Homo sapiens: one gene and its partner. The protein of the gene in region 2 purifies or fractionates together with the protein of the main gene of each other region. This does not show direct contact. Each region holds a gene or a part of one and is shown on either strand. Other genes may lie near its edges.

Region 1 (3,594 bases), on a different chromosome or scaffold from region 2:
AGCTATACTTTTGAACTGTTAACTCAAGGTATGTAAAGGGAGTATAAAGATAATGCTAGCTCTGTAGATGAGTGTCTTCCAAGGAAAGCCTGGCACTTTTCTCCCCGGTCATGGAAGAAAAGCAGCACTTAGGGGAGAAGCAGTGTCTGCATATGTCACATATCGGGAATACCTCTGCTGGACTCATGAATTCAGGTATTTCTGGGAGGTTCTGGGTTACTCTAGAGTAGGCGAGGAATCCCTAGGCTCCACCAGCTAGCTTTATTTTTGTAGAGATGGAGTCTTGCCATGTTGCTCAGGCTGGTCTCCTGGGTTCAAGCTATCTTCCCACCTTGGCCTCTCAAAGTACTGGGATTACAGGTGTGAGCCACTGCACCTGGCCTCCACCAGCTTACTTAGCACCTGCTTCTCAATCTGAGAAGAGAGAAGCAGATGACCTTAGATTGTTCTGGAGAGTTTTGCTACAAGTTTTCCTTATAGACATTGTACAGTGGTCCTTACCAGAAGGGAGTGCCCAAGTCTGTTTACATTCAGGCTCAGCACCTATCCAGAGTCCCAGCCATGAGCCAGGTGCTGTCTGAGGTGCGCTCATGTGATCCTCACAGTAAAACCTGTGATACAAGCAACACCGTATATCTAATTTATTTGACCACAGATTTAGAAAAGAATCTTTAAAACCTAATAACATACCACAGATGCATTTTGGTAAATGCTGCTTTAGATTATACTTTAGCTGAATCCATTAGTTGAATCCTAAGCTATAATATAATTTTAAGAACCTCCTTGCCTTTCAAGCCAAATAACCAAGGGACTTTCTCTCTCTCTTTCCCTCCCTCCCTTCCTTCCTTCCTTCCTTCTTCTCTCCCTCCCTTGTTATCTCTTTTCCTTTCCTTTCTCTCCTTCCTTCCCTCTTCCCTTTTTCCTTTCTCTCCTTCCTTCCTTCCTTGCTTCCTTCTTCCCTCCCTCCTTTGTTCTCTCTTTTCCTTTCCTTTCTCTTTTTCTTTCCTTCCTTCCTTCCTCACTCACTCTTTTCTTTTCCTTTCTCTCCTTCCTTCCTTCCTTCCTCCCTCCCTCACTCTCTCTTTTCTTTGCCTTTCTCTCCTTCCTTCCTTCCTTTTCCTCCCTCCCTCCCTCCCTTGTTCTCCCTTTTCCTTCCTTCCTTCTTTCCTTTCTTCCTTCCTTCCCTCTTCCCTCACTCTCTCTTTTCCTTTCTCTCCTTCCTTCCTTCCTTCATTCTCCCCTCCCCTCCCCCCTCCCCTCCCCCTCCCCTCCCCCCTCCCCCCCTCCCCTCCCCTTCCCTTCCCTTCCCATTTTTCTTCTCACCATGTTGCCCAGGCTTGCCTCAAACTCCTGGGCTCAAGTGTTTCTCTTCCACCTCAGCCTCCCAAGTAGCTGGGGCTACATGTGTGAGGCATCACAACCATGGACTTTTCACTTTCTTCACTCCAGGTTAAAAACATCACAGGGATAAATCTCAAAACACCAAAACTGTGAAAATGCTGCTAACCATGTGGGTCTGTCTAAACTGGAGTGTTACTTGTACAACTGGTTTCAGCCCCTCCGGAGTGTTTTGAATGCCATGTAGATGAGTTGTGAACTCATATTCCACTTTGTAGTCTCATATGTTCTGGGACACGAGCTATTCCATTCTGACTTCTTTCTGCCTCTTGCAGTTCCTTCATCCATTCTGGACTTGGTCGATGATCACCATGGCTCAACTGGGGGACAGACGGTGAGGTGCACAGCTGAAGGCACGCCGCTTCCTGATATTGAGTGGATGATATGCAAAGATATTAAGAAGTATGGAAAACAGATGTGTCTTCTTCTTTCGTGGTCAGAATATTTCTCCCTTGACACAAATGATGTCAAATACATTTTACTTATTGACTATAAGATAGGGTTTTGGGTGTGATAGCTTCAGGGTGTGTATCTTTTGTCATGAATAGCTGTGAGAAGAAGGTCCAGGGCTCTCATTAGACCTTCAAAATGTCTCCAATCTAAAAACAAGAGTGAATTTTAAGAACCACTGTTCTAAGAAGATTTTTACTACCCTGGCTCACATATCTTATTTGGTGAACTTTGTTTGGTAGTCGGACTGCATGTAAACATAAATGTGACTGCTTAGTCCCTTATCTGCCCACCTGCTGTTTGGTGGGTTAATTCGCCATTCCCTCCTCCCTCCCCCGAGTCCTCAGCCTTCTTAAATGGGCACATGAGCAATGTGTTTACACTTCATCCATGGTAACTGGTTGTGTTCAGAAGCCTCAGTTGTTTCTTCCTCTAGACAGAGACTCCTCATCTTAACTTCTAGGGCTAAGAACAGACTTGGATGTTGACTGGGGTTTCTAGTAGATTCCAGTGTGGAGCAGGATTCTAGGTCTTATAACTCAATCTGAGGATCATCGCAACCCTAGTGACACCCTAGGGGCTCTTCCCAGTGTGAGTGTTGAGAAGGGAGGGCTCCAGGCCTTTTTGAAGGGGTGGGAGATTGAGATCATTAAATATGGTTGAAGTTGAACTGTTCAGTTTGCTCATAGGTTCAAGATTGGGGAATGGTAGTCATATTTTATTAAACTTGATTATCTCTGCCTGCTATGTAAACACTTAGCTTTCAGTTGTTCATGTGTGAGTTATTCCCTCTTCAGCACATGCAGACAAGTTTTAATGTTCATCTGCATGTAAAATAAATCAGTGTGTATTGCCCCGAAATGCAGACAAGGTCCCAACTCCTTGCCATCTTAGAGTGTTCCCGTGGCTCCACTCATTGCCATGACTCTCAGGAATTGGCCCTATACTTAGGCCCTTTTTCTCTCTAGATGTAATAATGAAACTTCCTGGACTATTTTGGCCAACAATGTCTCAAACATCATCACGGAGATCCACTCCCGAGACAGGAGTACCGTGGAGGGCCGTGTGACTTTCGCCAAAGTGGAGGAGACCATCGCCGTGCGATGCCTGGCTAAGAATCTCCTTGGAGCTGAGAACCGAGAGCTGAAGCTGGTGGCTCCCAGTGAGTTCCTCAACAGTCAGGACAACTCATCAGCTGAGCCGCATCTGCCCCAGGCGGAACTTTGAATCCCAGATAGGGGTTATATAGAAATGAAGGTCCCAAGGCAGAAATTCAGTTATGAATGCTCTTAAAGTCATGTGGGACTTTGTTTTATTTTGTTTTGTTTTTTGAGACAGAGTTTTGCTCTGTGGCCCAGGCTGGAGTGCAATGGCACAATATTGGCTCACTGCAACCTCTACCTAGGACGTTGTTTTAGATTCAGATCCAAAACTGCATTTTTGCAGAGGCCCCTCAACATTTTGCTTGTCTAATAATATAGCTACAGTCTCTACTTTGAATGTCTGTGTATGTGGATGGAGTGTGGGGAAGGATCTTCTGTCTCATTGCTCCTTAAAAGATAGATGAAGCCAAAAGCAATATAAGCAAAATGCAACTTACAAAATAAGCTTTATAATAAAGCATATGAAGTAGAGGTGTCTGCCCATATAGTAGCTGTCAATTGCATTTATCCTATTCAAATTCTGTCCACAAGGTTACTGTTGGAGCAACTTTGGAGAAAATACTGAGTTCTCCTGATTGAATTT
Region 2 (3,594 bases):
AAATTGAAGTATTTCCCTTCATCTTCTCTGTCCCACTTTGCAGCCCCTGGGACACCAAGAGACTGATGCCTAAAGGTAAAGTCACTTGTTCAAAGTCACCCAGCAAGCTGATGAAAAAGCCTGCAGAACTGTGAATCGAATGTAGGTTTCTTAATTCCAGATACGTTGTTCTTTCCACACTGAGCTTTTTTCTATATAAAAGGAAGTACTATATATCATGGGTTTAAGTAAAGGAATACACACACACACACAAATAAACATAAATGCGAGGGGAAATGTCTAAACAGAACACACCACCTGATTAATATGAACATTATAGGGGAATAGAATTAGAAGGGAACCAGCAATTTTAACGACTGACAATGATCCTATGTGGATGAACCTATTTGAGAAATAACAATATTTGTTTTGTTTTGTTCTGTTTTTTGAGACAGAGTTTTGCTCTTGTTGCTCAGGCTGGAGTGCAATGGCACAATCTCGGCTCACTGCAACCTCTGCCTCCTGGGTTCAAGCGATTCTCCTGCCTCAGCCTCCCGAGTAGCTGGGATTACAGACGCATGCCACCATGCCCAGCTGATTTTGTATTTTTAGTAGAGACAGGGTTTCTCCATGTTGGTCAGGCTGGTCTTGAACTCCTGACCTCAGGTGATCCGCCCGCCTCGGCCTCCCAAAGTGCTGGGATTACAGGCATGAGCCACCGCGCCCAGCCAAGAAATAACAATATTTGTTATTTTGACTTTTTTAAAATGTGTATCACCTTGTTCTTTTTCTTTCTCTCCTTGAATATTTAAACATCTTCACTAACTGAACTAAGAAATTGAACTAACTCAACTATAAAACCGAGAGAGGGGGGTAAGTAAATAGTCTTTTCATGGGAACATGACAGAAAAACAGAAATAAGACATCTAGTGTTAGATCTAGTGTTAGAATTTGTCTAGCAAGCTTTCTGGTTTTGGCCAAAAAGCCACCCACCCACCCACCCTCCCAAAAAAAAGGAAAAAAAAAAAGTCAAGTGGGTTGTTTTTTCAGAGATGCTACCAAAAATGTAAAAAGGTAGAATAGCCCCCAGGTTTACTTAACAACTTCTGACTCCAAGCATCATGACATACAATATTTGGCCACAAAATATCTGTTACTCCTATGAGCAAGAATAATAAGTGTTGGTTGCTACAGAATCCTCTCTAGTATCCTGAAGTCTTTAACTACTTAGCACATGGAAAATCTAATGACTTATATATAGCTAAATACATCTATCCAATTATAAAATTTAGAAGCTGAAAGCTGGGGAGCACCTCCAAAGTTTAACGGATCCAGTCCCACTGCTTTCAGGGTAACTGTTCCAACACGGAGGATGACGGAGTGGCCTCAGACAATGTCTTAGAGTTACTGATAGATGCAGCATCATAGATTAACCCCAAATGTATTGTGCTAAGTGAAAGAAGCCAGACTGAAAGTCTATACACTGCATGCTTTCATTTATATGACATTTTGTAAAACATAGAACTGCAGGGACAGGAAATAGATCAGCAGTTGCAACCGACGAGGGTTGAGGGTAGGGTATCGATTACAAAAGAGCTGGGGGGGCACCTGGCACAGTAGCTCACGCCTGTAATCCCAACACTTTGGGAGGCCGAGGTGGGCAGATTGCCTGAGCTCAGAAGTTCGAGACCAGCCTGGGCAATATGGTGAGACCCTGCCTCTAGAAAGAAAAAGAAGGGAAAAAAAGAGCTTGGGGGAATTTTAGGGGATGATGGAAAAATTCTGTATCTTGATGATGGCAATGGTTACTTGACTATATGCATTTGTCAAAATTCATAGAACTGTATGCACTAAAAAGGGTGAATTTTACTGTACATAAATTATACCTGAATTATCTAACAAAAAAAAAAAAAGAGTGTTTTTGGTGAGACTGTGTGTGTGGACAGAAAGGCAGATGCTATCACTTTTTTGCTGGAGAGTCTCACGTTTCAATAAATGCCAGCAGTTCCCACACGGGGAATAGGCAGTTCCCCTAAACAGAGTCATTTCCCTGCTCCCACCTTCATTTCCACTAGTGGCCTGAGCTCCATCAGGCACAATGAAGGTCCCACTCAGGAAGGGCCAAGGTTCAGGAAGAGGGAGCAGAGGCGATGGGGTGGAGCAGCCCACTCTGTGGGCAGCAGAGAGGGCTGGGTAAAACGAAGCGGTTCATCCCTGAAGCTGCTCAGTCACTCCCTCGGTTAATTATCTGTCTTCTGATTCATGAGTTGTGGTTCCTGTGGGCATGCTTCCTGGAGATTTCTGCCAACAAGGGAAGAAGGGTTCTTGGGACTGGGAGGGGATGATAACCTCAGATCCCAAGTAGGGTGGGGAGCTTTAGAGGAGAAATTTCGATCAGGAAATTCTAAAGTCATAGCCAGACTCCCCCTCCTCACTGTGGTGTGCTTGCCCCATCTTATGGTCTTCCCAGGAGACCTCTGTCACTCCTCACCCTTGCCCCAACACCCACACGTCCAAGGGGGAGAAAGGAGAATGTTGCCCTTCTAACGGCTCCTCCCAGGAGGGAAAAAAAGGCAGACACTTTACAGAGGATCCCTTGAGTTTTTCACACTCTCAGATCACAGGTCTAAATGGTGCAACAGTGCAGCGGCCCAAATGCCCAAAGAATTCATGATCTTGGCTATGTTTTCATACCCTCCAGATTATCCAAACGGAGCACTTGAGGATCTTGTATGAATGAGTGCAAATATTCAAATATTGGGTTTCTTAAAGGGAGGCACATCATCTATAGATGCCTTTACATAGCATTCCACAGATATTTGTTTTGCTGCCTATGTGCCAGGCAGTGGGCATAGAGTATTGAACAAAATAGACATGTCCCTCTTCTCATGGAACTTGAAGTCTTATAGATCCTTTTATCTTCCTCTTTTTTCAGATACAGGGCTTGAGGTTTTCTTATGGGTAAAGCAAATGTATAAGCCTTTTTCCTTCTTGGCTTCTTCTGTGGATTCTTGCCGGGTTAGAGTAGCTGAGATATGCCAAACCAGCAATGAGGAACGAGTTGAAATAAGAGGGACCCCCTCTCACATATGTGGGGGAAAGGGACCCCATCAGTTTCATTCTGGAAGCCTGCATAGCGCATATGCATGAAGTAGTAACAGCTTTTGCCTCCAATACATGGCAGATAGCATGGATAGGAAGAATAATGACAATAGTAGTTGTCATTCATTAAACACTTATTTTGTGCCTCTGTTTCATTTAATCAGCATAATCATAGGCATTGTTTCCTCTGCCTTACAAATGAGGAAACTGAGGACTCAAGAGATTAGGTAACTTATTTAAGGCCACACAGCCTACAGGAGACAAAGTCAAGAATCAAACCCACATCTTACTGGCTTTAAACCATAGCCCTCCCTTTCCGAAGCCAACAAGCCTTCCTGCTGTGTTTCTCCAGGACCTGAGGATACCTGCAGAGGGCTTCGATTGGAGAGCTTCTAGGATATAAACTCCAGAAGAGAAATAAGCACCTCAGCTTAGACCTAATTAGGTCAGAATAAAAACCTAAACACGAGGAAGACACAAAACCCATACTTCCTGGGTGAAGCTAAAAAGATC

Evidence for each region. Proteins that work in one complex are often made in the same cells at the same time.
Region 1: the proteins of ITGB3 (region 2) and PDGFRA purify together in Homo sapiens (affinity purification with western blotting, with the first as the bait; one study listed by BioGRID). This does not show direct contact.

Annotation. Positions count from the first base shown.
Region 1 is NC_000004.12:54,270,721-54,274,314, forward strand, and holds part of PDGFRA (platelet-derived growth factor receptor alpha isoform 1 precursor), read left to right. Parts: coding exon 1-28; intron 29-1,673; coding exon 1,674-1,800; intron 1,801-2,816; coding exon 2,817-3,010; intron 3,011-3,594. UniProt on the Homo sapiens protein: Tyrosine-protein kinase that acts as a cell-surface receptor for PDGFA, PDGFB and PDGFC and plays an essential role in the regulation of embryonic development, cell proliferation, survival and chemotaxis.
Region 2 is NC_000017.11:47,256,733-47,260,326, reverse strand, and holds part of ITGB3 (integrin beta-3 precursor), read right to left. Parts: intron 1-3,594. UniProt on the Homo sapiens protein: Integrin alpha-V/beta-3 (ITGAV:ITGB3) is a receptor for cytotactin, fibronectin, laminin, matrix metalloproteinase-2, osteopontin, osteomodulin, prothrombin, thrombospondin, vitronectin and von Willebrand factor.